Linked DNA regions of Homo sapiens. The protein of the gene in region 7 purifies or fractionates together with the protein of the main gene of each other region. This does not show direct contact. Each region holds a gene or a part of one and is shown on either strand. Other genes may lie near its edges.

Region 1 (4,250 bases), on a different chromosome or scaffold from region 7:
CCATAATATTAATATTAATATGGCAAAATATTAATGCCATAATATTAATGTTTAAGGACATTTTAGCGGGTGAAGGGCAGGGAAGTTAAGGTCCTGCAATATTCAGACCAGTCCCACACAGTAAAGAACTATTCCACAGCATTTGAATATCTTCTCAGATAGTCACGGAGGTTTAAAAAAGAAAAAGCAAACAAACAAAAGAAGCTCAGCCTAAAATCTAACTCCAATTTCTTTATTTTTTTTGAGATGAAGTCTTGCTCTGTCACCCATGCTGCAGTGGCTCGATCTCGGCTCACTGCAAACTTCGCCTCCTGGGTTCAAGTGATTCTCCTGCCTCAGCCTCCTGAGTAGTTGTGACTACAGGAGCCTGCCACCACACCTGGCTAATTTTTGTATTTTCAGTAGAGACAAGGTTTCACCATGTTGGCCAGGCTAGTCTCAAACTCCTGACGTCTGGTGTTCCACCCGCCTCGGCCTCCCAAACTCCTGGGATTACAGGAGTAAGCTACTGCGCCCAGCTCAAATTCTATGTAAATACTGTACAAAGTATTTTTTGCACGATTTAACATATACTGAATTCGGAGGTACCCAACTACCATGTAAACTGAGAGAAGAATTATACTCTTTTTATTAACAGAACTTTACCAGAGGCCAAGGCGGGCGGATCACAAGGCCAGGAGATCGAGATCACCCTGGCTAACACGGTGAAACCCCATCTCTACTAAAAATACAAAAAATTAGCCGGGCGTGGTGGTGGGCACCTGTAGTACCACCTACTCGGAAGGCTGAGGCAGGAGAATGGCGTGAACCCGGGAGGCGGAGCTTGCAGTGAGCTGAGATCACTCCACTGCACTCCAGCCTGGGTGACAGAGCAAGACTCCGTCTCAGGAAAAAAAAAAAAAAATAGAACTTTACCAAGAGTTAGTCAGTATTTTGGAAAAATCACATCACCGACAGCAACACGGCTCATGATTTGAATTGCCAATACATCACTTCCACCAGTCTGCATATGTACCTATCCCATTCATCGGAGTTCTACATACTTATTAAACATTTATTTCAAAATGTCAAACATAAAGAAGTGTTCTAATGCATGTATGACCAAGCATTAACAAACTGAAATATGTATATTCTTCTAGTATATATATGCATAAACATTTACAATTTGAAATACACATATTCTTTTATAAATCATCCTTTAATTTCTGTACATTAAAGTTAGGAAGTTATATTGCTTTACTTTTTTAATGGTGGTGGGTTAGATTATCTTTGCATTTCAATTCAGGGTAACAAAGTTGGCATCTGTAATATAGGTGGATGCTGGTCTGTTAGGGTTGGAAAATACTCGTCTCAGCCACGTGGTTACCTGGTCGTAACTGAATACCACCACAAAGCTAGTGTAATGCGTCAATGTAGTTGAGGTGGAAATAAGGAAAGACTGTTCAGCCTAGTTTCTAGCATGATACTAGCATCTAATATCAGACATATGATGTCTGTCCTGTCACAGAAGTTTCTGGAAGTCAACATGAAAAAGGCATCACACAGCTCTCCAGGGGTAACAGTCTAGGAGGCCAGCAGCAATGACAAGGAAAGCAGTGATCTCACAAGCATGAGCCCATTGGAAGAACTGTAACACAAAGGAATGCTGATTCCTAGAAAAAAAGCTAACAGCTTTTTTCCCTTTTCTTCCCACCTCACTCCAACTCTAAAGAGAAGGTATGGTGTCAGGGACTGGTCTGGGAGAGGACGTTTTATTAGGCTAAAGTTACATCAAATTTGCCTCTCGAAGGACTTGTGTCTCTTGGATGCATCAGCCTACCATGCCTGGAAGCCCAAACTAAGGCTTGGCCTGGCACCCATCTCCACTTGGGAAAAGGCCCAGGCACCAGGTTCTGACCCTCTCTTTGGATGCCCCTGTGTTCCTGAGGCTGGTTGGTCCCTGGCAAACATCAGGCCAACTCTCTCATTGGCTTCGCTAGGTGGATGGGGAGATGGAGCCGAAGCCCAACAAGCAATAGAGTGTTGCTCTGCAGGCCACTGCCCTCTGTGTGTACATATCCCTCAGGGTCTCAGTGGGTAGGAGTTGCTGGTTACCTCCACATTCCCAATGGTAATTTCTACTCCTTCTGTCAATTAACCTGATCAAACAATCATGTCCCTCTCCATGCCATTCCCAGCGGGGGAAGGTCACTTTGCAATCAAATTGAGAAACAAAGTGCACTAGAAATGCTCCCCAGTGGACCTCTTCCCCATGGCACCACCCAGAGTAACAGCAGGAGACCTTGGCCTGCCTCAATCTAAGGACCACATTGGCCTTGCCCTGCCTCAACCTCTCTATTCCCCATATTCTCTCTCAGCACAAAGGTACTTCCCATTCTCTGTAAAATGGCTCTTTCTATGTTCTGGGTTTTTTGTTTTATTGACTGTGAAAAAACACACCTAATCTTTCCTAAATTTACCATCTTAACCATTCTGAAGTATATAGTTCAGCAGTTTTTTGTTTGTTTGTTTTTTCTTTTCAGACAGGGTCTCTGTCGCCAGGCTGGAGTGCGGTGGCGCAATCTCGGCTCACTGCAACCTCCGCCTCCCAGGTTCAAGCGATTCTCCCACCTCCACTTCCCAAGTAGCTGGGAGTACAAGCATGTGCCACCAAGCCCGGCTAATTTTTGTATTTTTAGTAGAGATGAGGTTTCACCATGTTGGCCAAGCTGGTCTCAAACTCCTAGCCTCAAGTGATCCACCCACCTCAGCCTCCCAAAGTGCTGGGATTACAGGTGTTAGCCACCGCACCTGGCCTAGTTCAGCAGTATTAAATATACTCACACTGTTAGGCAATCAATCTGCAGAACTGTTTTCATCTTGCAAAACTGAAACTCTATACCTATTAAGCAGCAACGCTCCATTCCCCACCTCCCCCAGGCCCTGGCAACCACCACCCTTCTATTTTCTGTCTCTACGAATTCGACTACTCTACGTACCTCATGCTTGCATAAGTGAAATCATACAGTATTTGTCTTTTTGTGTCTGCCTTATTTTCGTTTGGCATAATGTCCTCAAGATTCATCCATGTGTAGCATGTATCAGAATTACCTTCCTATTTAAGATTGAATAATATTCCATTGTATGTATATACCATATCTTATCTACTCATCTGCCGATGGATACTTGGGCTATTTCCACCTTTTGGCTATTGTGAATAGCGCTGCTAGGAAGATAGGTGTGCAACTATCTCTGAGATCTGGTTTTCCATTCTTTTGGGCATATACCCAGAAGTGGAATTGCTAGATCATATGGCAGTTTTTTTTTTTTTTTTTTTTTGAAAGAGTCTCACTCTGTTGCCAACGCTGGAGTGCAGTGGCCCGATCTCTGCTCGCTGCAACTCCGCCTCCCAGGTTCAAGTGATTCTCCTGCCTCAGCCTCCCAAGTAGTTGGGATTACAGGCGCACACCATCACGCCCGGCTAATTTTTGTATTTTTAGTAGAGATGAGGTTTCACCATGTTGGCCAGGCTAGTCTCGAACTCCTGACCTCAAGTGATCCACCCTTCTCAGCCTCCCAAAGTGCTGGGATTACAGGCGTGGGCCACCACACACAGCCATCATATGGCAATTTTATGCTTAAATTTTTGAGGAACTACCATACTGTTTTTCATGGTGACTGCATCATTTTACATTCCCACCATCAGTGTGGAAGGGTTCCAATAACTTCCCATTCTCACCAATACTTGTCATTTGTATTCTGGGCCTTACATTTATCATTCTTTATCCATTCCATGAACTAGAATAATAAACACTTTTATTTTAAATGAATTCCTATTTTCTTTCTTTTTTTTTTTTTGAGATGGAGTTTTGCTCTTGTTGCCCAGGCTGGAGTGAGATGGCGCGATCTTGGCACACAGCAAGCTCCGCCTCCCAGGTTCAAGCGATTCTCCTGCCTCAGCCTCTCATGTAGCTGGGATTACAGGAATGCGCCACCACGCCTGGCTAATTTTGTATTTTTAGTAGAGACGGGGTTTCTCCATGTTGGTCAGGGTGGTCTTGAACTCCCGACCTCAGGTGATCTGCCTGCCTCGGCCTCCCAAAGTGTTGGGATTACAGGTGTGAGCCACCGCGCCTGGCGGAATTTTCCTATTTTCAAAGCAAAAATATAGCAAAGAAATGTGGCTACTGGCTGGGCTCGGTGGCTCACACCTGTAATCCCAGCACTTTGGGAGGCTGAGGTAGGCAGATCACAAGGTCAGGAGTTTGAGA
Region 2 (4,250 bases), on a different chromosome or scaffold from region 7:
ATTTATATATATAGTGTTTTTTTGTTTTTTTTTTTTGAGATGGAGTCTCACTCTGTTGTCCTGGCTGGAGTGCAGTGGTGTGATCTCGGCTCACTGCAACCTCCACCTCCTGGGTTCAAGTGATTCTCCTGCCTCAGCCTCCTGAGTAGCTGGGATTACAGGCACGCACCACCACACCCTGCTAATTTTTCATAATTTTAGTAGAGATGGGGTTTCACCATGTTGGCCAGGCTTGTCTCGAACTCCTGACCTCATGATCCGCTGGCCTCAGCCTCCCAAAGTGCTGGAATTACAGGCGTGAGCCACTGCACCTGGCCCATATATATTCTCAAATTACGTAAAATTGATGTTTCAAGAAGTACAGAACAATATTTCCATATTTCTTTTAGTGTGTGCTCTGGTGTTACTGACTCTTAAGTTCTTCCCTAAAAAGTCTTATGCTGCAGTTTCAGATGCTTCTTTTTTGGTCTCTAACATTAATAAGAACTGAAGAGGAAAATCAGTATGCCACATTTCACTGATTTGAAGACACATTTTAATATCTCTGAATTTAGAATATATCTTATAGTTGATGGTGTCATAGTTTAATTGGCAGTATTTTCTCTTAGCGGTCCCTAAAATAATGTCTTTAATTGGCAGCATTTTAGTTTTGATGGAATGAAGTAGTAGATTCTTTGCCTTTTATTGAAGATGTCTAGACTGAAATTTCATTATTGCATCTTTGCCCACAAGATGGTGGTGATGAACAATTTGTCACAGATAAGAAAATTCCTTGGACAATTGAGACAAATCTAGAGCTGGTAAATTTTGCCATAATTGGGTTTTTATTTCCAATTAAATGTTTTTTCTTTTTCTATTGCCAGTTCTAAATATTTTATGATTTGCAGTATAACTACTCTGTGATTCATGTATTTTGGGTAAATAAAACATGCAAAATATGAAGATAAAACTTAGTTCAAATAAATTATAATCATGATAACATGCAAGTTGAAAAGACATTTACTATATTGGTATGTGACTTTTTTTTAATCCTACTTTCTGGCTTCGCCAAGTTTCCCTAGTGGCTATTTTCCCTCTCCTGATTTGAACATATGCTGTTGCTGTTCTTATCATGGTTCCCCTCCCCCATCTTTTAAACATTGCCTATTTGATTGTCTGAATCCAATAATATCAGTTTCCTTTTCCTGAACCTTAAACACTTTAACTTTCATCTTCCTCACATCTTCCTTTTATTTATGCTCCTTTTTAACCCCCATCCATACTTTTTTTTCCTCTTACATTCAGTGATGAGAATTACCAGGATGCTTATGGTCTTTTGCTCCCCATTGCTTCTTGAATTTTACTTCTTCCCTTTAGATTCAGTTTTCCCTCACTGAGTATATCTTTTAGAAGTGTTTCCAGAGAGGGTGATGAGTAGTCAAATGTTTTCAGTCTTTGTTCATTTGTAACTCTATTTGGCCAGCATTTTGGAATGTCTCTTTTAGCTGAGTGCAGAGTCCTGGGTGGCAGCCGCATCACTCCTGACCTCATCCATCTGTTGCAGATGAGAATGTTTTTGCCAGTCAGTCTAATTGTCATTTCACTGTAGTAAGTCTGCCTGATTTGACCTTCTATCCAGGGATAGATTTTCTTCTGTTCAAGGATGGATTTAGCTTTATCATTCTTGGAATTCAGTTGTGCTATTCCAAACCAAAGATTCTCCTCAGTTTTGGAAAATTCTCACCATCGTTTCTCCAGGTAGTGCTGTTTCCCCATGATCATTTCTCACACTCTGGAATTCTTATGAATGTTATTGAACCTTATTATTTTTGCCTTTCTTGTTTCCTCTCTATCGTATCTTCCAGATCTTTCTACTTCGCATATTGTAAGATTCCCTCAGATTTGTTTTCTAGTTTATTACATTATTTTCAGCTGAGCATGATCTCTGCTTAACTTTTCCATTGATTTATTAATATCATTTACTATATTTGTCTAAAATACTTACCTTTTCAAACCAGCCTGTTTCTTTTTATACTATTCTATTTTTTATTGTAGTTTGTAGTATTTTCTTAAATAATTTTAAACATTTACTTTATAGATAGCTTTATTATCTTAGTTTTGGGGTGCTGATTATTCTCTTTGGGGTACCAGTTATTCTCCCTCATAATTATTTTATTCTGTGCCTTGTAATTTTTGCTCCAGAACCTTTCTTCAAGAGTGACACATCATTGATATTGTGGTGGTTCTTTAATCCCGTAGGATATGAAAGCCTTGCTCCATAAGCGGTTCATAGTTCCTTCTGTTGGGGCCATAGGGCTTCAATAAGTCTGGCCCAATTTTTATGTAAGCCTTTCCCCTTGGGGGTCTTACACCTGGAGAGAGTATAAATTCATACCCTATATCTGTGTGAGGCAGTGGAGGCCCGCTGTTTCTAAGGGAACTTTTTTTGCAAGCCCCGACCTCCCTGAGACTATTTTAAGTTGTAGGCTTTGTGCAGGGCATTCAGTTCTAGCTCCCCAGCTGCATGTTGGCCATTGCATGTCTCTTATCTCCACCTGGGCATTCAAACCCTTGTCCATAAGGCTTGTATTTTTTTTTTTTTTTTTGAGACGGAGTCTCGCTCTGTTGCCCAGGCTGGAGTGCAGTGGCGCGATCTTGGCTCGCTGCAAGCTCTGCCTCCCAGGTTTACGCCATTCTCCTGCCTCAGTCCCCTGAGTAGCTGGGACAACAGGCACCCGCCATCACACCAAGCTAATTTTTTGTATTTTTAGGAGAGACAGGGTTTCGCCGTGTTAGCCAGGATGGTCTCGATCTCCTGACCTCGTGATCCGCCCGCCTCGGCTTCCCAAAGTGCTGGGATTACAGGCGTGAGCCACCGCGCCTGGCCGGTTTTTTTGTTTTTTTGTTTTCTTTGAGATGGAGTTTCGCTTTGTCACCCAGGCTGGAGTGCAGTGGCATGATCTCAGTTCACTGCAACCTTCGCCTTCTGGGTTCAAGTAACTCTTCTGCCTCAGACTCTCAAGTAGCTGGGATTACAGGCTCCCGCCACCATATCTGGCTAATTGTTATATTTTTAGTAGAGATTGGGTTTCATCATGTTGCCCAGACTTGTCTCGAACTCCTGACCTCAAGTGATCTGCCTGTCTCGGCCCCCCAAAGTGCTGGGATTACAGGCGTGAGCCACCGCACCCGGCCCCCTAAGACCTGTTGTCTGCAGTTTCCCTGGGCTGCTGCACTTTAGCTTTGATATCTCTTTGTTTCTGTCACATGAGGAGTCCCACTATGGCTGCCTTAGTTCAGGCCCTACCTGGTCACTGTGCTTCTAGTTCAAGCGCCCTCTAAGATTGCTTTGTCTTCCATTTAGGCACCAATATTCTTCATAAGACAGAAAAGCATGAACTCCACAGGTCATTGTGTCACGCCTCACTGTCTGACTTGGTTCTCCTTCATTTCCCCATCTCCCTGTGTACCAGCTTACCTTGACTTCCCCAGGGAATGTGTTTCACGTATTTGTGGCTTGAACATACTGTAGGCTGAGTATCCCTTATCCAAAATGCTTGGAACCAGAAGTGTTTTGGATTTTAGACTTTGGATTTTTGGATTGGGGATACTCAACCTGTACTTTCCAGACAGCCTGTGCCCCAATTTTTGGTCTAGCTAAGATTCAACTCAACTGTTACATTCTCCTTAAAGTTGCCTTTGACCTGGTCTCATTTAAATGATCTTTCTCTTTATTCCTGTTACACATGTGCATAGTTTTGTCTTGGCATTTATCATATGGTTCTCTATATGATGATTTGTCTTGGAGGACAGGCATCATTTCTTACTGTCTTTTTTCAGCTTCAGTCATTGATACACAGTAGCACTCAATAGTTCCTTGTTAAATGAGGATTTATGTTATATGATAACATATGCACAGACCTGCATGTGTGTCTGCTGAGTGTTAATCACCAAGATTGACTTTGAAGAAGTTCAGGATAGTTTTTCAAGATAATGATGTCCTGTTACACGTTCACATGCCAGTTTTTCTTGTTTTCTCCCTCCAGGGCTATTGTGTTTGTTGTGGATAGTGCAGCATTCCAGCGAGAGGTGAAAGATGTGGCTGAGTTTCTGTATCAAGTCCTCATTGACAGTATGGGTCTGAAGAATACACCATCATTCTTAATAGCCTGCAATAAGCAAGGTGCCATCATGTTTTCTTGCAATAATAATTGAGTTTTTTGGGGATTGCTGCTACTAAGAATTATTTCCATTATTTACAGTTGTTATTA
Region 3 (4,250 bases), on a different chromosome or scaffold from region 7:
TTCCTTTTTTTTAATGAAAGGATGACAAGAAAAGGTAGAACAAGAGATTTTAGGGCTGGGCGTGGTGGCTCACACCTGTAATCCCAGCACTTTTGGAGGCCGAGGCAGGCGGATCACCTGAGGTCAGGAGTTCAAGACCAGCCTGGCCAACATGGTTGAAACCCTATCTCTACTGAAAATACAAAAATTAGCCAGGTGTGGTGGTGCACACCTGTAGTCGCAGCTACTCAGGAGGCTGAGGCAGAAGAATCACTTGAACCTGGAAGGCAGAGGTTGCAGTGAGCCAAGATCGCACCACTGCACTCCAGCCTGGGTGACAAAGCAAGACTCTGTCTCAAAAAAAAAAAGAGATTTAAATATCTGACATGAAAATAGTTTGCACCAGAAAAAAAAAATTATAGAAGTGTTTTTAGCAGTGTTATTATTATTTTTTAAATTTAATTAATTTATTTTTGAGACAGGGTCTCACTCTGTTGACCAGGTTGGAGTGCAGTGACCCGATCATAGCTCATTGCAGTCTCAAACTCCTGAGCTCAAGTGATTCTCCTGCCTCAGCCTCCCGAGCAGCCGGGACTATGGGCACACACCAGCATGCTCAGCTAATTTTTAAAAAATTTTTGGGCGGCCGGGTGCAGTGGCTCACGCCTGTAATCCCAGCACTTTGGGAGGCCGAGGCGAGCGGATCACGAGGTCAGGAGATCGAGACCATCCTGGCTAACACGGTGAAACCTCGTCTCTATTAAAAATACAAAAAAAATTAGCTGGGCGTGGTGGCGGGCACCTGTAGTCCCAGCTACTCAGGAGGCTGAGGCAGGAGAATGGCGTGAACCCAGGAGGCGGAGCTTGCAGTGAGCCGAGATCACGCCACTGCACTCCAGCCTGGGCGATAGAGCAAGACTCTGTCTCAAAAAAAAAATAAAATTTTGTAGAGACGAGGTCTTGCTATGTTGCCCAGGTTGGTCTTGAACGCCCAGCCTTAAGCAATCCTCCTACCTCAGCCTCCCAAAATGCTAGGATTACAGGCTTGAGCCACCATGCCTGGCCACCACCTTTTTGATTTACTCAGCAAAATCTCATGTAACCCCCAAGCCCACAAACGTTTCAGATAGTAAAGTGATACTATAGGACTGGATAAGGTAGTGGAGTCAGAAAGGGAGGAAAACTCATTATTATGTTGGGTTTCTGAGACATCTGAAAATCCTAAATACAGGAGATCAAAAGAGATGCTGGAATTTCACTTCTAACTGACGTCCTCCCACTCCAGTGTTTTGAAGGAGGTATTCTGAAGAGCACCCTTGGCTTGGGTGTTCTTTCCTCACCCTTCCAGAGGGGCTCCATGCTCTTCATCATCATCATCAGAATCAGAATCAGTTTCAGATGAATCATCATCATCATCATCGTCATCCTCATTTTCACTAAAGCCCCGTTGAGGTGTCAACTGTGAGGTCTTCTTCTTCTCCTGTGATAGGGCAGGGCAGGCATAGAAAGCTTCAAGTAAAAAAATCAAATGTACCTATGCCCAGTTCTCTATTGCTCTAACCAATACACCAACCACCTGGCACCTCGTCACCAGAAAGAGAAGGGGGCACTTCCCAGAAGGGGCTTGAGAGCCTTCTTCTGCCCCTGCTCAGCTACAAATGGGGACTCCACTTTCTAGAACCCTATTCCATTTCTCTACTTGAGGCTGGGGTATAAATTCTAATTTTATCTATTGTACATATTACTTAGATCTTCAGGGCCCTGTGTACACTTTAGACAGCTTCGGCCCGAAAAGCTATGGACTTTCAAAGAAGAGGATGGCAACTCTAGTTATTTTGGAAGAAAATCAGGGAATATGAAGTGGGAATAGAAATTTTAGGGGTCTTAATACTCACAAAGACCATAGAGAGGAAATCTAATACTTAATTTGCAAGACTGCCCAGCATAAGCTGCTTGAAACTATCAAAAGAAGAAAGTTCAAAATCAACCTTGTGCCCATCAAACCAGCAGTCCCAGGGACTATGGACTTTCCATTTTTGTTCAGTGATATTTCTCTTCATGGAGTATCTGACCTATCTGTATTTCCCTTCCCTTACCCCATAAATTACATAAAATGACTACACATTCTCTCTCAAGATAAACAGCTCTTTTGTTCTTGACATTATAACCTACCTTTCTGTGCTTCTGGCTCTCTCTGTACCATCCCACCCTCTCAAGTACATGAGAAGGGGTCTGGTGGCACTTGAGACTTGCAGGGGCAGGTGGAACAGGGTCCATGTCTTTGCCTCTGTGGCCTGGAGCCTGTGGCATGCCCTCCCTTAGGACCTGAAGGATGACCAATTGGCCCCCTTTAAAAGTAGGTTTTCAAAACTTGGTTTCTATATACCGTATGGCTTATACTGAGGTTAACACGTTTGATTCCAGTTGTTTAAAATTAATTTGTTTTTATGGTAAAGCAGCTATTGGCACACAAAATTGTGACACGTTACAGGACACCAAAAACTGCTTTTAGTCACATTTTGCTCTAAGAATAACAAATTTATTATACATAAAGTATATTCTAACTAAGCTGTAATATGCATGGCAGATAATGAAACACAGTTGCAGAATTTATTCAGTGACTATGCCTTATTAGTATATGACTGATAAGAACTTTCTAGAGCATTCTTTCTCAATTCAAGATTTGCCAAAATTATCCTTAGTCACATAGGAAGCAGTTTTGGCAGAGGGAACTTTTAAGAATATTGTCAGCCCGGGGTGGTGGCTCATGCCTGTAATCCCAGCACTTTGGGAGACCGAAGCAGGCGGATCATGTGGTCAGGAGTTCGAGACCAGCCTGACCAACATGGTGAAACCCCATCTCTACCAAAAATACAAAAATTAGCCAGGCGTGGTGGCGCACGCCTGTAATCCCAGCTACTCAGGAGGCTGAGGCAGGAGAATTGCTTGAACCCTGGAGGCGGAGGTTGCAGCGAGCTGAGGTCATGCCACTACACTCCAGCTTAGGCAACAGAGCGAGATGACTCTGTCTCAAAACAAAAACAAAAACCATTAAAATGCAGCCATCAGGCTGGGTACAGTGGCTCACACCTGTAATCCCAGCACTTTGGAAGGCCAAGGCAGGAGGATCACCTGAGGTCAGGAGTTCAAGACCAGTGTGGCCAACATGGCAAAACCCCATCTCTACTAAAAATACAAAAATTAGCCAGGCGAGTTGGTGCAGGCCTGTGATCCCCCAGCTACTCGGGAGGCTGAGGCATGAGAATTGCTTGAACCCAAGAGGCAGAGGTTGCAGTGAGTCAAGATCACTGCACTCCAGCCTGGGTGAAAGAGCAAGACTCTGTCTCAAAAAAAAAAAACAAACAAAAAAAACAGGCTGGGCACAGTGGCTTGTGCCTGTAATCCCAGCACCTTGGGAGGCCTCCCAAGTAGCTGGGATTACAGGCACCCGCCACCACGCCCAGCTAATTTTTTGTATTTTTATTAGAGATGGGGTTTCGCCATGTTGGACAGTCTGGTCTCAAACTCCTGACCTCAGGTGATCCGCCCGCCTCGGCCTCCCAAAGTGCTGGGATTACAGGAGTGCGCCACCACACCCGGCCAACATAAACGGTTTTTAAGAAATCATATGTGCAACTCTAAGGTCCTATATGTTTCTAGAGAGGTGGGCCTCTTGCCATGTTTCTTTCAGAAGCAGGGTGATTCTCTAGGTACACAGAATAACAGCAGCCAACATCTGGGTCTTAAGACCTCAAAATTAAAATCTCCTTCACAAAATACTGGCAGTATCACAAGTATTGACAATGAAAAAATGCCTAGACTGATAATTTCAAACTCGCTTTAGCATAAAATTACCTGGACTGCTTCCTAAAAAATATAAATTCCCAGGCTTTTACTTTTGAGATTCTGGGCTGGGACTGGGAATCCGTATATTTAAAAATAAGTACCTCAGTTGAGTATTATGATCAGGAAAGTTTGTGAAACACTGGCCTACATTATGTGAAATTCCTCACCAAAGTCAATTGTAGTAGTAGGCTTTATTCCTGAAGAAGGGTCAAAATCTCAAGGCTCTTTGTAACTGATTTTCCTCCATGAGCTCAAAGGTCCCTAACCCCTGGAGGTGAGTGTTCAAGAAATGTTTACCGTTGAACTGGTGTCATCTCTAACTACTAAAAACCCAAAGCAGAAATTCTACAAGAAGCTGTGAGTTTTACTGTACCTTGTTATTTTCCTCTTCACACTCATCACTGCTGTTATCAGCCATAGCCTTG
Region 4 (4,250 bases), on a different chromosome or scaffold from region 7:
TGCCCGTTTGCGGGGTGTGACGGTGCCCGTTTGCGGGGGGTGACGGTGCCCGAATGTGCAGGCGGGTGACTGTGCCCATGTGTGTGGGGGTGATTGTGCCCATGTGTGGGTGGGTTGTGCACCCGTTTGGGTGTGTGTGTGTGTGTGTGTGTGTACCCGTGCGGGGGGTGGGGGGGTTGTGCGTGCCTGTGGGGGGGGGTGTGTACGCCCGTGTGTGGGTGTGTGCCCATGTGCGGGTGTGTGTGTGTGTCCCTGTGACGGGAAGGCGTGTGTGCCCGTATGTGTGTGTGGGGTCTGTGCGCCCATGTGGGGGGGTTGTGTGCGTGCCCATGTGTGCGGGGGGGCTGTGCCCATGTGTATAGGGGGGTGTACGCGCGCCCATGTGTGTGGGTGTGTGTGTGTCCGTCTATGGGGGGGCATGCCCATGTGTGTGTGGGTGTGCGCCTGTGTGTGTGGGGCTGTGTGTGTGCCCGAGTGCGCGGGTGCCAGTGAGCCTGTGGGGGGTATGTGTGCGCCTGTGTGTGTGTGGGGGGGTACGTACCTGTGTGTGGTGTGTGTGTGCGTATCTGTGTGTGTGTGTGCGGGGTGTATGTGCGTACCTGTCTGTATGGGGGTGTGTTTACAGGTGTGAGTGTCCATGTGGGTGTGTGCCTGCCCGTGTTGTGTGGGGGTATGTTTGCGGGTGTGTGAGTGCAGGCCTCTGTGTGGGGGTGTCTGTGTGTGGGCCCGTGTGTGCAGGGGTGTGTGTGTGCCCGTGTGTGCAGAAGTGGGTGCACCTGTCTGTGTGTGCTGGGAGTGTGTGTGCGAGGAGTGTGTGTCCGTGTGGGTAGGTGCCTGTGTCTCCATGTACATGTGTGCACACGTCTGCATGTGTGCCTGTACACGTGTGCTGGTGCGTGTCTGTCCGAGTAGTTTCCCCTGCTCTAGCACCCACCGTCAGCAACCCCAGCGTTCTTGCCCCGTGGCCTCTGACCCACTGACTGGTCCCACAAAGCCACCTACGTTCTCAGGGACGCAGGCGCCTCGCAGGGGAGGCTGAGCTCACCTGCTGCTTCAGTTGGTCCTCGTAGCGCTGCCGGGCCAGCTTGTCTTGATACTGGGCCCTCTGGGGGAGAAGAGGGCGGCAAAGACACATCTCAGCCGGGAGCTGCAGTCTGGGCCGACTGGGCGGAGCGCCGGGGACTCCGACGCGCCATCAGCCTCACACAAACGTGGGGAGGCGCGGGGACCTCCCGTCCGGCTCAGCAGTGAGGGACCTTACAGGTCTTAGGCGTTTGTGCAAGGCCGTTCCGAGGGCAGCTCTAATGGCTGACTCCAGAGTGCCCCGGGACCACACCCAGCTCCCAGTCCTGCCCCAGGCCGCTCCCCGCAGCCGGGCGGCCTCCCTCGCGGCCTCTTGCGCTCTTACGGCCTGGTGCTGCCGGGTCTCCTCGCTCAGGGTCTTCCTCCTCTCCTCAGCCTGCGCCCGGATCTGCTCGCTCTTGAGCTGCTCCACGGCGGCCTCATACTCCTGCAGAGCACAGCACTCACCAGCTGGCACTTGCTCAGGGCTGGCACTGCCTGACAGCCGCTCCTGTGTCTGCACGGCTCCGGCACGGCAGAGACTCCATGCCCAGACTAGTGTGTGCAGCAGGCTCAGGGCTTCCAGCCGCATCTGCACCCAGGATCAGGCCCTGGAGGAATCCAGACCCACAGGCACAGAAGCACCAGCAGAAGCCCGCGAAGGCCCCCCGGGAGGGAGGCCGGACACCCCCTTTTGGACTGCACTGAGGGCAGAGCTCATGCTTATTTTAGGAATCCTGCTGAGTGGACCGGGTGCGACGGCTCTCGCTTATAATCCCAGCACTTTGGGAGGCCAAAGTGGGTGGATCAACTGAGGTTAGTAGTTCGAGACCAGCCTGAACAACATGGTGAAACCCCATCTCTACTAAAAATACAAAAATTAGCCAGATGTGGTGGCGGGCTCTTGTAGTCCCAGCTGCTCGGAGGCTGAGGAAAGAGGTTGAACCCGGGAGGTAGAGGTTGCGGTGAGCTGAGATCACGCCACTGCACACCGGCCTGGAAGACAGACTAAGACTCTGTCTATAAAAAAATAATAATATGAAACAAGGCAGGCACAGTGGCACAAGCCTGTAATCCCAGCACTTTGGGAGGCCGAGGCAGGTGGATCACTTGAAGTCAGGAGTTCAAGACCAGGCTGGCCAACATGGTGAAACCCCGACTCTACTAAAAATATAAAAATTAGCCAGGTGTGGTGGCGGGTGCCTGTAATCCCAGCTATTCAGGAGGCTGAGGCAGGAGAATTGCTTGAACCCAGGAGCGGAGGTTGCAGTGAGCCCAGATGGCACCACAGAACTCCAGCCTGGGAAACAGAGACTCCGTTTCAAAATAAATAAATAAAACGAAATAAAACAAAAAAATCCTGCTGAGTGTAATGAAATGAGAAGATCCAGGCCATCCGGACGACCAGACGCCCTCACCAACACCGGCCCTCCCTCCGGACGACCAGACGCCCTCACCAACACCAGCCCTCCCTCTCGGGCGGCTCTGCGGCAGCGTCTCTCACCTCCCTTTGTTTCCTTCTGTGAAATGAGGCGCCCAAGCTTGGCCCTGGGCCCCACTGCTGCCCATGTACACACCCCCGGCCCTACCCACCGGCAGTAGCCCTACCAATCTCCATGCCCGAACCCCATGTGCGCCCCGGCCTCCCCACCCACACCGGCCCCACTCACTTTGAGCTTGGACTGTTGCTCCAACTGCAGCGTCTGCTCCTGCATCTGTGCCAGATTCAGGGCGTCCTTGGCATAACCTGCAGACGCAAGGACACGGAGGGCAGGTGTTAGGATACACGGATGCCGCTGGGCAGGCACGCACACCAGCCAAGGGGCTTTCTGGAATCCACGGCCACGCCTCGACCTCAAAGCCCCCAGCCCTGCCTCCCCATCCTCCTTCCTAGTCAGACCTGGCGTGACGATGCACCATCCCCAGCACACGGCCTGATGCATTTGTGAGGTTTTATCCCCCCAGGGATGGTCTTGGAGAGCCACATCAGGAAGGCCATCCCACGTGGACGGGAGGAGGCTCTTTCCCAATTCAACAGAAAGTCAGGCGATGGCTAAAGTGTCCTCTATTTTTTCACGTTACATTCGCTTTTCCTAAGCTTCCAATGGCTGTTGTCATTGATCTGCTATCAAGCACATGCAGGCAAGAAAGGGAATGAATAAGAATAGGATACCAGCCAACAAGCTCAGGGTGACGAGGACAAGCATCTGACAACGTCCTCAGTTACGTTTTGTTCCTAGAGGGGAACTGACACAGGTCGATGTTTGGGTGTCGTGGGACAGAAGTACGTATTCTCTGAGCTGCTGAGGCCTCAGCATCAGGTCTCAAAATTTTCTGGGATGACAGTTTTCCCATCATAAAACTTTACCATAAAAATCTTTTGGCTGGGCGCGGTGGCTCACTACTGTACTCCCAGCACTTTGAGAGGCTGAGACGGGTGGATCACTTGAGTCCAGGAGTTAGAGACCGGCCTGACCAATGTGGTGAAACCCCATCTCTACTAAATATACAAAAATTAGCTGGGCGCAGTGGCGGACGCCTGTAATCCCAGCTACTCTGAGGCTGAGGTGGGAGGATGGCTTGAACCCCGGAGACAGAGGCTGCAGTGAACCCAGATCGCACCGCTGCACTCCAGCTAGACAGAGAGAGACTTAAAAAAGAAAAATCTCCATCCGGGCCAACATGGCGAAACCCTGTCTCCACTAAAAAGACAAAAAAAGAGCAGGGCACAGTGGTGCACGCCTGTGATCTCAGCTACTTGGGAGGCCAAGGCTGGAGAACTGCTTGAACCCAGGAGGTGGATGTTGCGATGAACCGAGGTTGCACCACTGCACTCCAGCCTGGGCGACGGACGGCAACTCCATCTCAAATAAATAAATAAACATATAAATCTGCTAACACAGAAAGACACGTAAAGTAGGCAGGGACCCCCGATGCTCCTGGGTTGGTGCGTTGTTCCCGTCTCTCTTCCTCCCGCAGCCCGTCTCACTTTTTTAAGCCTTCAGAGTCAACTGCAGCAAACACGTCACTAACTAGAGCCCAGCGTCTGTTCTCAGCTCAGGTGTAATTTTTGGAGGTGACTGACGCAGGGGGAAGTGCCGTGGGGAGCACTCGTTGCATTTAGACAGAGGCAGCGACGCTTTGGTGTTGGGGTGGGTCTGCTTGGGCCTGTGGTTAGGCACGAACTG
Region 5 (4,012 bases), on a different chromosome or scaffold from region 7:
GAGCTTCTCCAGTCGTGTGGTGTCTTTATCTGAATACCGCCAGAGCCTACACACTTACCTGCGCTCCAAGATGAGCCAAGTAGCCCCCAGCCTGTCAGCCCTAATTGGGGAAGCGGTGCGTCACAGGGGACTCAAAAATGGGAGAATAAGGACTGTTGCCATGTGCACCTGCACTGCTGTATTTCGTGACCCACCATGTCTTCCCTAGTTGTGCTTGATGGGGAGGTGGGGAGCAGGGCTGTCGTGCAACTGGGCAGGTCAGCAGTTCATTTCTCTGACTGCTTCCTTGACTCTCTCTCCAGGTAGGTGCACGTCTCATCGCACATGCTGGCAGCCTCACCAACCTGGCCAAGTATCCAGCATCCACAGTGCAGATCCTTGGGGCTGAAAAGGCCCTGTTCAGGTACCAGTGAGGGCACCTGCCCACAATCAGGTGCCACTTCTGGTGCCCACTGCTTGTTGGGGGATCACGGTGATGGCTGACCAGGGCTCCCTGACCTATACAGGCCTCTGCTATGGGGGTGATGGCCAGTCCTGGTGTCTGAGTGATTCCCAGGGCCCAGCAAAGGGACCAAGTTTCCAGGTCAGCGACATTGGATGCCTTCCCTCTGCCTCTGGGAGCTATGGGTTGGCATGCATTGGGGTAGAGATCCAATCTGGCCTGAGGCTCACTCAGGACTTCGGGGTGAGAGGAGGGGAGGAGCTGAGCTGCCTTGGCTAATGGGGTTGAAATTTCTGATCTTAAACTCTCCACTGAATATTCTCTCAGAGCCCTGAAGACAAGGGGTAACACTCCAAAATATGGACTCATTTTCCACTCCACCTTCATTGGCCGAGCAGCTGCCAAGAACAAAGGCCGCATCTCCCGATACCTGGCAAACAAATGCAGTATTGCCTCACGAATCGATTGCTTCTCTGGTATGGGTGGGGGGGCGTTGGCAGGTGTGAGAAGGGGCTGGGTGGCTGGGTGGGGAGGCTTGCAACCATAGCTTCCACAATGATGGCAATATTTTTCGTCAACAGCAGTTCACCTAGTGAGTGTTGAGACTCTGGGTCTGAGTGAAGCTGAGGGTAGAGGGAACACAGGGTTGGGGTAGTTTCTCTCTTTGGGCTGACAGGCTTTGTCACCCACACACATCCAGAGGTGCCCACGAGTGTATTCGGGGAGAAGCTTCGAGAACAAGTTGAAGAGCGACTGTCCTTCTATGAGACTGGAGAGATACCACGAAAGAATCTGGATGTCATGAAGGAAGCAATGGTTCAGGTCAGTTGGGCTTTGCTGGGTGTGGAGTGGCATAGCTAGCTGTTGGAGGTGATGAACTGTCTGAGCCTGACCTTGTAGAATGGAGGCAAAAAAACTGATTTAATGAGCCTGATCCAATAAAGCCAGAAAGGAGTCCTCAGAGCACCAGAAGTCTTCAGGCCCTTTTAGCACTTTTCTTTGACCAGGCAGAGGAAGCGGCTGCTGAGATTACTAGGAAGCTGGAGAAACAGGAGAAGAAACGCTTAAAGAAGGAAAAGAAACGGCTGGCTGCACTTGCCCTCGCGTCTTCAGAAAACAGCAGTAGTACTCCAGAGGAGTGTGAGGTCAGTAGGCAGCACGGCCCTGGCAGAGATCCTAGGTTGTAGGATTTTCAACAGCAGAACAAAGGATATGCTGCATCAAGCTGTGGTCTTGAGTCCAGGCTTTTGGACTGAAACAAGGACCTGAAACATCTAAAACTACCTCTTGATTCTATAGGAAGGAGATAGGTGCTGAACTTGCTCAAGAGCCCAGAGAGCTGGTTGTAGCTCACACCCGTTCCCTGGGCATGTGTGTTCTGTCCTCGGCTGCCTCCCAGGAGTCCTCAACCTGGGGTAGTGTAAATTCCTGCTCTGCTTATTATCAGACGTGTGTCCGGAGGTGGTCGTGTTTCACAGTGGGGATGGGGGCAGGGAGGTCCCCAATGTGCTAAGCTACAATCATTCTCCCTGAGATTTTCATTTAGCACCCAGTTTCTTAAACAGTGTTTCAGGGCCCTGTCTGGAACTTGGCATGATGGTTCTGTTGCGACCAGCATGGTGGGTGTTTTTTAGGTTTTTTTTTTTAATGGGCTGAGGTAATTTCTCATGACATGTTTTCCTTCTAATTTGGGACAGCCTTTGGGGTGGATTTCTAAAGTTATACCCACACAATTAAACTATCCCAGAAACACTGGGCAATGTTAACGACACGCGTTCCCCTGCCTTGGCTACTTAATTGCTGAAGATGTAATGAGCACTGTTCTCACAGCCTGTTCCCCTGTCCTTCCCTTTAGGAGATGAGTGAAAAACCCAAAAAGAAGAAAAAGCAAAAGCCCCAGGAGGTTCCTCAGGAGAATGGAATGGAAGACCCATCTATCTCTTTCTCCAAACCCAAGAAAAAGAAATCTTTTTCCAAGGAGGAGTTGATGAGTAGCGATCTTGAAGAGACCGCTGGCAGCACCAGTATTCCCAAGAGGAAGAAGTCTACACCCAAGGAGGAAACAGTTAATGACCCTGAGGAGGCAGGCCACAGAAGTGGCTCCAAGAAAAAGAGGAAATTCTCCAAAGAGGAGCCGGTCAGCAGTGGGCCTGAAGAGGCGGTTGGCAAGAGCAGCTCCAAGAAGAAGAAAAAGTTCCATAAAGCATCCCAGGAAGATTAGAATGCAAATGGACATTCTCTGGGAGGTGGGGCATACCATAGCCCAAGGTGACATTTCCCACCCTGTGCCGTGTTCCCCAATAAAAACAAATTCACAAGAGTTGGTTCATGTTCTTTATTGAACACCTTACATGGGTATGGACAGGGCCTATGGGTGGGGCAAGGCAGCAATGACAGCCTCAGTGAAGTCATGGCAAGTAGCATAGCCACCCATGTCAGAGGTTCGAACCTGTGGGGGAGAATCATCATCATCCATGTGGCCTGGGCTCCATCCTAACAATCCCCATCACCACCCAACAGTCTGTCCCCTAAGGAAGCCGGCCCAAGGACAACCTAGGCTCTACCCAGCAAGGTGACCATGGTCCACTGCTTAGAGGCACAAGGTCTCTTCCCTGGTACACTGCACTGAAGGGTATGGGGAGTGTGGTCCTTGCAAGGTTGGAAGAAATAAAGGGCTCTAGCTCCCTTTAGTCTGCAGGTGACCGATGACAGACTTGATGAAGTCGGTTGTGGTGCTGTAGCCGCCCATGTCTCGAGTCCGCACCTACAGCCACCACCGGCAACAGCCGTGGGGAGGGAGAAAAGAGAGCCCATGAAGGGAGGTAGGGCAATGTGATTGAGGAAATGGAAGCCAAGAATGCGTGACAGCCAGAAAAAAGGCAATGCACAGGAATGGAAGGAGGAGCCAGGATGGGAAGCACATGGACCTGCCACTCCTCTTAAGCCACTATTAGCTGTGCTGCAGCCAGGGCAGGACAGGAGGCTGAGCAGGCAAAGATGATGGGAAACGCAGATCAGAGGCAGGATGTGGCTACCTTCCTTGGAAGAAATAGAGACAAGACCAGGTGGAAGGAAAGAATCACAGCGAAAAGGAGATGGGGCGTGAAGGTGAAGCTGATGCTTCAGCCTGCCTGTATCCCTTGCTGTTCCACCCCCAAGGAGAGCTGCAAGTTCTGCATTCAGATGGCCCATGAAAAGGGCAGTGGATGGAGCAGGAAAGAGGGAACAGCAGATGGGATCTAAGAGGCAAAAGAGATCAAGAGGATGAAACAGCCAAGAGAAGGGAGATGAAGAACAGCCCTGAGAGGGATGCAGGGATGTCAGGGAGCAGATGTTCTGGGGACCTGGGGGGAAAGGAGACCCCCATTCAGGTTCCCCAGAGGGTAGTGCCGAGGTGCTGACACCAGAACTACTCTAAATCCTGAAGCCAGCACTACTCTTCTCAACTCACCTTGCCAACTTTGATCACCTTCTTCACCGCATCTGCGATCATGCTGGAGTGATACTCAAGACTGTGGATATGGACAGGAAGAAACTGTGACTCCCCCAAGACACCTCCCGCTAATTTCC
Region 6 (4,250 bases), on a different chromosome or scaffold from region 7:
ATTAGTAGCTAAGTTTTTGGGTAATGAAATGTTATATGCAGAGTTTCAACTGCTCAGGAGCCAGCATCCCTAAACCCTGCATTGTTCAAGGGTCAACTATACATGCAATTTAGACAGTAGTTATATTGTAACATATACAGTTACATTGTTATATACTATACATAGTAGTAACGTTATATACTATATATTATATATAATAATTACATTGCTGTAAAAATATTGTAAAGTTCCTTCTTTTTAGTTTATTTTCAGCATTCTAATCTGCTAAAGGTTGTCTGGTAGCACTTCGAAAATGTTGTACAACAGTAAGAGAAATGAAAATGCTTAAATAAGAATGTGGTTTTTTTCTTGAATGTTGTATTTAAATCAGCTTAGTTCCAAGCTTTTTTTTTATCAAGTTCTTTTGCTATTTCCACAGAGGCATGATATCCTTCCATAAAGAGCCGAGGCTCTAGATTTGGACACACCTGGTTTTATTTCTGCCTCTCACAGTTTGGTCATATTTCTTTCTTATTGATAGAGATGACAGACAGTATTTCACAATTATAATAGTTAAATGAGGCCAGGTGCAGTGGCTCATGCCTTGTAATCCCAGCATTTTGGGAGGCCAAGGCAGGAGGGTCATTTGAGCTCAGGAGTTCAAGACCAGCCTGGGCAACATAGCAAGACCCTGTAGAAAAAAAATTTTTTAGGCTGGGCACAGTGGCTGATGCCTGTAATCCCAGCACGTTGGGAGGCTGAGGTGGCTGGATCACCTGAGGTCAGGAGTTTAAGAACAGCCTGGCCAACATGGTAAAACCCCGTGTCTACTAAAAATACAAAAATTAGCTGGGCATGGTGGTGCACGCCTGTAATCCCAGCTACTCGGAAGGCTGAGGCAGGAGAATCACATGAACCCAAGAGGCGGAGGTTGCAGTGAGCCGAGATCATGCCACTGCACTCCAGCCTGGGTGACAGATTGAGATTTGTTTCCTTAAAAAAAAAAAAAAAAGTTTAAAGAGTTAAATGAAATTACATGTAGTACCTTGTAAGCACCTCCTCAACTGCAGTCGGTTAAAATACTTTGATTTGACATGGGATATTGCATAATTTGTTTAAGTTAGCATTTATTTAGTGCCCTATTTTCTCCTTCCTTCATGCATTTGGAAATTAGATTGAATGTTACTTAATGTTCAGTGGAAATTGACAGGTTGCGTTAATCTGATGGATACTTCTTTGTATTTTGGGAGTTCAAAATATTTTTCTTTGATGTATAGCAAATCGACAAATTGAAATCCTGGAACTGGAAGATCTGGAGAAAGAGTGTTCCTTGGCTCGCATCCGCCTCACTTTGGCTCAGCATGATCCATCAGCGGTTGCAGTTGCTGGTAGGAATTCAAGAGTTTAAAGCCTCTGACTTGTCAGCACCACGAGCACATTTTAGGTCCAGGCAGTGTATGTAGCATGGTAGATGGGTATAAAGCCTGGGTTATTACTCAGAGATACTCATCAACAAAACAAAATCTTTGGTTTCATTTGTGTATACCTTGGCTACACGAAATAATCTTTTTCCATTTTCACAGGAAGTTCATCAGCAGAGGAAATGGTCACTCTCTTGGTTCAGGCGGGCCTCTTTGACACTGCCATATCACTCTGTCAGACTTTTAAGCTTCCCTTAACGCCAGTCTTTGAAGGGCTTGCCTTCAAGTATGTATAAAATTATTTTTTTATAGTCTTTTCTAATGCAAATATATTATCCTCTTGCTCAGTGTGAAACAGTCGTCATAAGCCAAGTAGCCCATATATCATTTATGATTTGAAGAAGTGTTTTGTTTAATCCATCCAAGCATTCTTAAAAAGAATTTCAGGCTGAGCGCAGTGGCTCACGCCTGTAATCCCAGCACTTTGGGAGGCCGAGGCGGGCGGATCACGAGGCCAGGAGATCAAGACCATCCTGGCTAACAAGGTGAAACCCCGTCTCTACTAAAAATAATACAAAAAAAATTAGTCGGGCGTGGTGGCGGGCGCCTGTAGTCCCAGCTACTCGGGAGGCTGAGGCAGGAGAATGGCGTGAACCTGGGAGGCAGAGCTTGCAATGAGCCGAGATCGCGCCACTGCACTCCAGCCTGGGCGACAGAGCGAGACTCTGTCTCAAAAAAAAGAAGAAGAATTTCTTGGCCAGGCACAGTGGCTCACATCTGTAATCCTACTAATACTTTGGGAGGCTGTGGCGGGTGGATCGCTTGGGACCAGCCTGGCCAACATGGTGAAACCCTGTCTCTACTAAAAATACAAAAATGAGGGTGTGGCACACAACAGTAATTTCAGCCTCTCAGGAGGCTTAGGCACAAGAATCTCTTGAACTTGGGAGGCAGAGGTTGCAGTGAGCTGAGATCGCGCCTCTGCACTCGAGCCTGGGCAACAAAGCAAGACTCTGTTTCAAAAAAAAAAAAAAAAAAAGTTTGTGAATTAGAAATAATTTTGAACTTTCAGAATTTTTCAGCCAGGTGCAGTGGCTTACGCCTGTAATGCCATCACGTTGGGAGGCCAAGGTGGGCAGATCACTTGAGGTCAGGAGTTCAAGACCTGCCCGGCCAACATGACGAAACCCCATCTCTACTAAAAATACAAAAGTTAGCCAGGAGAGGTGGCGTGTGCCTGTAATCCCAGCTACTTGGGTGGCTAAGGCAGGAGAATCGCTTGAGCCTGGGAGACGGAGGTTACAATGAGTTGAGATTGCGCCACTGCACTCCAGCCTGGGCAACAGAGCGAGACTCCATCTTAATTTAAAAAAAAAAAGAGGCCAGGTGCGGTGGCTCATACCTGTTATCCCAGGACTTTGGGAGACCTAGGCGGGCGGATCATGAGGTCAGGAGATCAAGACCATCCTGGCTAACACAGTGAAACCCCGTCTCTACTAAATATACAAAAAATTAGCCAGGCATGGTGGCATGGGCCTGTAGTCCCAGCTACTCAGGAGGCTGAGACAGGAGAATCACTTGAACCTGGGAGGCAGAGGTTGCAGTGAGCTGAGATTGCACCACTGCACTGCAGCCTGGGTGACAGAGCAAGACTCCATCTCAAAAAAAAAGAAAAGAAAAAAGAATTTTTCATCATTAATTTTATCTTGGAAGTAAATTGTCTCTTAATGCTTACTCATGTTCTTGTAGGTATCCAGTTGTGTAACTTGAGGAAGAGATGAGCCAATATTCCAGTAGTGAATTCAGCAAAAGACTAGAGATGAAGTTGTCATCTATCTCTCTAGTTTTAGTATCAAATTAAAGTGGTACGTTTCAGCGTTCAGTTTTCAAGTGTGGAACCATTTTCATTCCAGATGCATCAAATTGCAATTTGGAGGAGAGGCAGCACAAGCAGAAGCCTGGGCCTGGCTAGCAGCCAATCAGCTCTCATCTGTCATCACTACTAAGGAGTCTAGGTACAACCCTGGTGTTCAACCCTGGGTAGTTTTGCCTTTCTAAAAGCTGTAACTGTCTTTCTCTGACTAAATTGTCCTACATAGATCATTTCACTTTTTTCTTTCTTTTTGGCTAAGTTTTTATAGGGGCTGGAAAGTTTATAATTAAGGTGACATCATGTCATTTATTGTCCAAACTAGGATGTCTTTGCCTATGAAATGTCTCCTTCTCCATATCCCCCTCCTCAAAGACTTACTGTTTCATATCAGGAAAGGGTACTCTTACAGGCAAAAATCTGTATTTACTTGTTTCGGAGTGTTATCCTCCTTTTTTCCCCCATTTCTTCCACTGAGCAGTCACTGCATGGTTTCATCACAGTGTCCTCTTATATCTTGTCTCCAGCTGCTGTTCAGCAGTCTGTCACCCATCAGCCCCCATCATCCACTATACCTTCTTCAGATCTCCTCTGGTTCGTATACTTCCCCAGTGCACCCACTTTGTGTCCACGTAAATATACTTCAGCTTCTTCAGAAACCTTCTCTAACATTCCTAACCCTCAGTAAACTTCCCTTTCTGAACTGCATTTGCACTTGGTATTATACAGCTTAGCACTTTAGAGTGATAGCACTTTAGAATTTGGAAGTTCTCTGACATTAGTTTTCAACCCCTAAATTAGCACATCAGAATAACTTATTAAAATACAGATTATGAGAAATCACCCTAGTCTTCTAAGTTAGAACTTCTGCATGATTCTAATGCTTGATCAGGTTTGAGAACCAGTGTTCTGAACCAGTTTCTTGTTTTAGAAATGCAGAAACAAAGGAGTTAAATGAATTATGCATTAATAGCCAAACA
Region 7 (4,250 bases):
GATTTAAAAACAATCACACAAACAAACTCCTCACAGGTATTTGCCACACACTAGTTAAGAATCCTTGCTAGTGGAAATAGTAATATTCTTGCTCCAATCTGGTACATACCACACATATTTGCTGGGGAGATGAGAAGGCACATATTTGTACTTGATGATTACTTGAAGAGGGGAGAAGCAGAATGTTTTCACAGCTCAGAAATCTCAAATCCAGTGCACTTTGGGAGAAAAGGTGGCTCTAATCACTCATTTTATTCTCACCCTGCCTTCTAGGCTATTGTCACTCCAGTTCCTAGCTTAAAACTGTACGGGACATTTCCAGTATAGAGCCTGCTGAGAATGAACATGAAATCAAGGACATTACCTGATGATGGATTATGTAGATGGCGAAGGTGTGGTGGCACGGAGACCTCTTGGTGACCAGGCCGGACACTGAGCAATCTGTCCAGCAGCTTATCAGAAGAAGACACAGTCCAAACTTTGTAGGAAAATACCTGATTAGAATCACTCTTCCAGGGGTTATCTAGTAACATCTGGCAGCCAGTTCTGTTATTTAATAAATCCTGCTCACTTCGACTTTTCTGAGATCGCTGGGCCATATGATGAGGAGCAGAGCTCAGGCCTGCATGGGAAGTGGCCCTATGGGAGGCTGTTAGGAAGTTATTGCCCAGGGTGATGGGTGGGAGACTCTGCGTTCTGATTGGTGGAAGCCCCTTACGGGCCAGCGGTTTCTTTTCTGGTAAGAGATATTTTGAATTGTCTGAGGTTTTCTTCTTAAATTCAACCATAGCCACCTGATCACCAGGCTGTTCTTGGCAGTTGGTACCCACGATGCTATCAAAGGTGGTGATGATGTCATTGACTTCTGAGGTGTCCTCCTCTCTGTATCGGTCCCTGCTGGGATCCTTCTGATGGGCTCTCTGCTCTTCTTTCTTGTTTTTGCAGAATATTTGGTTGAGCACGTTGAACCGTCTCTCCTTCTTCTGGGGCCGACTGCTCTGGGAGGGAGGGGGTCGAGTAGGCTCTGTTCTATGCGAATATAAAAGAGCAGGGATGATATGTGAGTATGGGAAGTAGAGACATCACTCACCGAAATACCGACCCCCTATTCCACATGCTTCATCAGGTTTTCTGAGATCCTTCCTAGATACCTCCAAAGCCTTCTCAAGTTAAAGGCAGTGTGAAGAACTCACAGTACCCCTGGCAATCCCGCCCAGAAGAGGCTCTTTACCATGGGCAGTCTTTGCCCAAGGAGGACGTTTCTTAGATTTTTCTTGCTCCTTCAGGGGATATCCTTTCAAAATTTACACCTAGATCATCTGTTTTCAACAAGAGGTTAACTAAACTGAAAATTAGCTGAAAGTGTTGTTCTCACATCTCAAGGACAGTCAGTAGGCACGCAAGTTGAAGTCAGAGATGAAGCCTAAGGGTTTGAGTTCAGGCTTCAATGAGCAGAAGGATGGAGGAGGTTGCTGAGGTGGGGGGAATGTGGTTTTAGGCTTTCTCTGACAGAGATCCTAGAAAACCTGGACCGAGTGCTGACCGACTGACATTATCCCCCTCAGAGACCCCTCCCCATTTTAAACTAAAACTTTCCTATCGAAAAGTACTTTTAAAAAAAGTATGCTGAAGAACAGGTACGGTGGCTAATGCCTATAATTCCAGAACTTTGGGAGGCTGAGGCAGGAGGATCACTTGATGTCAAGAGTTTGAGACCAGCCTGGGCAACATGGCAGGATCTCATCTCTAGCAAAAAAAAAAAAAAAAAACAACCAAGGAAAGAAGCTTTAGTCTGGGCTCCAGCGAGGGAAGAGGAGGAGTGCATGACCAAGGTCGGGCGTGGCTGCAGAAGAAAGTGAGCAATGCCCAATGCGCAGGCAAATTATAAAGGAAAAAGGCCAGCAGTTGTCGAGAGGTTCCCTGAGGCAAGATTCTGTTTGTGTTCCTTAGAAAATTCTGTGTGATTCTCTTTTGAGGCTCCAATTGACTTAATGCTTTCTGCGGTATGAATTAACGATGAAACCTGACCCGTGTGTGTGCCCCTGAGTCAGATTGCAACACTACTTTCTGGAGTGAGATATCGCAATCTGCAATTTGAAAAACATCACCACTTATTTTGGATGCATATAATGAATGTTTTCTCTACAGGTCACACAGTGCATCCTTTGAATTTTTATTCCATGATGTAGTCTTATCTTTATTCTTTCACCTTCCAATGGGCTTTTTGAAATACTGAATTCTAGACTCCTAATACCACCAGAGAGAGAGCCCCAGGGCACTTCCGACGCTCAAGTTTCCCTATAAAGAATATGTCTGTGTGAATTGATGCTATTGCAGCATCTTGTGTAAGCCATCTCCTCCTCCTGTTACAGCTTGTGCTTTAGGCCTCTGGGTCTCAAAATGGGGTCCACTGAACCCTTGGAGAGGGATCCCCGACTTTTTAAGGGGTTTATGGCATTAAACTCTATTCATAATAACATCACAACGTTATTTGTCTTTTTCACTGTGCTGCCTTGCATCGATGGTGCAATAGAGGTGGTGGGTAAAATGGTGGCTGCCTCAGTACAAATCAGGACAATAGTGGCATCAATGTACTTGCAGAAAAAAAAAGTCCTTTAACTTAATAATGTCCTTGTTTAGGGAGTACAAGTTATTAATTTGATTAAATATTAACTTGAGTACACTTGTTTGACAAAATAAGAAGCACTCGTAAGCAATTCTACTATATACGGAGGTGTGATGATTGTCTTGGGGTAAAGCAGCTGTGCAATTGTTTGAGTCGCGGGCTGAACCGGACACTTTTTTCACGGAACACCATTTTTATGCCTTGCAGACAAACTGTGGTTATGTAGAGCTAAGTATTTGCAGAAATTTCTGCAAAATAAATAAAGTGAAATACACAGAAACAGAGAGTAAAACAGTGATTACCAGAAGTGAGGGTGAGGTGGGGGAATGGGAGGTGTAGGTCGAAGGGTACAAAGTTGCAGTTGAGTTCAAGTATTTCTCGTGCTTCAGCCTCCCAAGTGTCTGGGATTACAGGTGCATGCCACCACGCCCAGCTAATTTTGGTATTTTCAGTAGAGATGGGGTTTTGCCATCTTGGCTAGGCTAGTCTTGAACTCCTGGGCTCAAGTGATCCACCCACCTTGGCTTCCCAAAGTGTGGAGGTTACAGGCGTGAGTCACTGCGCTCGACCCATCTGACTAGGTATATTTATATCAAAATATGTATACTATATATATATATATATATATATATATATACAATAAAAATATATTAAAATGAATAAAGTGGGCCAGGCGTGGTGGCTCACGCCTGTAATCCCAGCACTTTGGGAGGCCGAGGCGGGTGGATTACCTGAGGTTGGGAATTAGAGACTAGCCTGACCAACATGGAGAAAACCTGTCTCTACTAAAAATACAAAATTAGCCAGGGGTAGTAGCACATGCCTGTAATCCCAGCCACTCTGGAGGCCGAGACAGGAGAATCACTTGAACCTGGGAGGCAGAGGTTTCGGTGAGCCGAGATCGTGCCATTGTACTCCAGCCTGGGCAACAAGAGCGAAACTCCATCTCAAAATAAATAAACAAATAAATAAAATAAAACGAATACAGTGAATATTTCATTTCAAGATAAATAACTGACAGTTATTGTAGCCAATGACAAAAGTCTAGCTTTCAAGCAAAAACTAGAATTTTGGAAAACTTATATTCACATTGTAAGCTTGACACCATCTCAGTATATAAAGCTTGTCCAATAGATTGGTGGTGATGTTAACAAATGTGACTTTTTGATATTGTATAATGAAATGTGTCATCTGGAAGATCTTTATAATTAAGTGAACCAATATTTTCCAAATGACCAATGCAAGGTGTTAATAAAATCACGCATGTGTATAAGACCCATTTAAAGTATAAGGTATAGTAATGTATTCTAATGTGACAGAGTACAAAAAATTCATTGATATGGTGAGAATCCACATTGCAATTAACCTTTAAGAAACTGCTGCTTGTTAAGTTTTGGTATCGTATCAAAGAAAAATACACACAATTATCTGAAAAGCCTATTGAGATACACCTGCCTTTTCCAACTACGTATTTATATAAGGCTGGATCGTTTTTATATACATCAATCAAAACATGATACTGTGGCTGGGTATGATGGCTCACACTTCTAATCCCAGCACTTCAGGAGGCTAAGGTGGGAGGACTGCTTGAGGCCAGGAGTTTGAGACCAGCCTGGGTAGCATA

What was found.
Region 1: the proteins of ANKRD55 (region 7) and IFT52 purify together in Homo sapiens (affinity purification with mass spectrometry; 3 studies listed by BioGRID and IntAct, with this or other methods). This does not show direct contact.
Region 2: the proteins of ANKRD55 (region 7) and SRPRB purify together in Homo sapiens (affinity purification with mass spectrometry, with the first as the bait; one large-scale study listed by BioGRID). This does not show direct contact.
Region 3: the proteins of ANKRD55 (region 7) and IFT46 purify together in Homo sapiens (affinity purification with mass spectrometry; 3 studies listed by BioGRID and IntAct, with this or other methods). This does not show direct contact.
Region 4: the proteins of ANKRD55 (region 7) and ATAD3A purify together in Homo sapiens (affinity purification with mass spectrometry, with the first as the bait; one large-scale study listed by BioGRID). This does not show direct contact.
Region 5: the proteins of ANKRD55 (region 7) and NOP56 purify together in Homo sapiens (affinity purification with mass spectrometry, with the first as the bait; one large-scale study listed by BioGRID). This does not show direct contact.
Region 6: the proteins of ANKRD55 (region 7) and NUP160 purify together in Homo sapiens (affinity purification with mass spectrometry, with the first as the bait; one large-scale study listed by BioGRID). This does not show direct contact.

What each region holds. Positions count from the first base shown.
Region 1 is NC_000020.11:43,596,959-43,601,208, reverse strand, and holds part of IFT52 (intraflagellar transport protein 52 homolog), read right to left. Parts: intron 1-4,250. UniProt on the Homo sapiens protein: Involved in ciliogenesis as part of a complex involved in intraflagellar transport (IFT), the bi-directional movement of particles required for the assembly, maintenance and functioning of primary cilia. Required for the anterograde transport of IFT88.
Region 2 is NC_000003.12:133,811,565-133,815,814, forward strand, and holds part of SRPRB (signal recognition particle receptor subunit beta), read left to right. Parts: intron 1-4,025; coding exon 4,026-4,162; intron 4,163-4,250. UniProt on the Homo sapiens protein: Component of the signal recognition particle (SRP) complex receptor (SR). Ensures, in conjunction with the SRP complex, the correct targeting of the nascent secretory proteins to the endoplasmic reticulum membrane system.
Region 3 is NC_000011.10:118,555,587-118,559,836, forward strand, and holds part of IFT46 (intraflagellar transport protein 46 homolog), read right to left. Parts: 5' UTR 4,244-4,250; coding exon 4,199-4,243; intron 2,305-4,198; coding exon of another isoform or gene 2,152-2,304; intron 1,460-2,151; coding exon 1,320-1,459; intron 1-1,319. UniProt on the Homo sapiens protein: Forms part of a complex involved in intraflagellar transport (IFT), the bi-directional movement of particles required for the assembly, maintenance and functioning of primary cilia. May play a role in chondrocyte maturation and skeletogenesis.
Region 4 is NC_000001.11:1,514,571-1,518,820, reverse strand, and holds part of ATAD3A (ATPase family AAA domain-containing protein 3A), read right to left. Parts: intron 3,188-4,250; exon of another isoform or gene 3,006-3,187; coding exon of another isoform or gene 2,963-3,005; intron 2,810-2,962; coding exon 2,733-2,809; intron 1,655-2,732; coding exon of another isoform or gene 1,511-1,654; coding exon 1,409-1,510; intron 1,106-1,408; coding exon 1,046-1,105; intron 1-1,045. UniProt on the Homo sapiens protein: Essential for mitochondrial network organization, mitochondrial metabolism and cell growth at organism and cellular level. May play an important role in mitochondrial protein synthesis. May also participate in mitochondrial DNA replication.
Region 5 is NC_000020.11:2,655,632-2,659,643, forward strand, and holds the end of NOP56 (nucleolar protein 56), read left to right. Parts: coding exon 1-115; intron 116-302; coding exon 303-403; exon of another isoform or gene 404-583; intron 584-769; coding exon 770-918; intron 919-992; exon of another isoform or gene 993-1,063; intron 1,064-1,142; coding exon 1,143-1,264; intron 1,265-1,307; exon of another isoform or gene 1,308-1,379; intron 1,380-1,449; coding exon 1,450-1,587; intron 1,588-1,741; exon of another isoform or gene 1,742-1,857; intron 1,858-2,297; coding exon 2,298-2,663; 3' UTR 2,664-2,762; downstream 2,763-4,012. Other genes in the region: IDH3B (isocitrate dehydrogenase [NAD] subunit beta, mitochondrial isoform e precursor), read right to left, coding at 2,878-2,891, 3,128-3,206, 3,894-3,954. UniProt on the Homo sapiens protein: Involved in the early to middle stages of 60S ribosomal subunit biogenesis. Required for the biogenesis of box C/D snoRNAs such U3, U8 and U14 snoRNAs. Part of the small subunit (SSU) processome, first precursor of the small eukaryotic ribosomal subunit.
Region 6 is NC_000011.10:47,785,618-47,789,867, reverse strand, and holds part of NUP160 (nuclear pore complex protein Nup160), read left to right. Parts: intron 1-1,256; coding exon 1,257-1,367; intron 1,368-1,562; coding exon 1,563-1,686; intron 1,687-3,313; coding exon 3,314-3,415; intron 3,416-4,250. UniProt on the Homo sapiens protein: Functions as a component of the nuclear pore complex (NPC). Involved in poly(A)+ RNA transport.
Region 7 is NC_000005.10:56,110,754-56,115,003, forward strand, and holds part of ANKRD55 (ankyrin repeat domain-containing protein 55), read right to left. Parts: intron 1,030-4,250; coding exon 365-1,029; intron 1-364.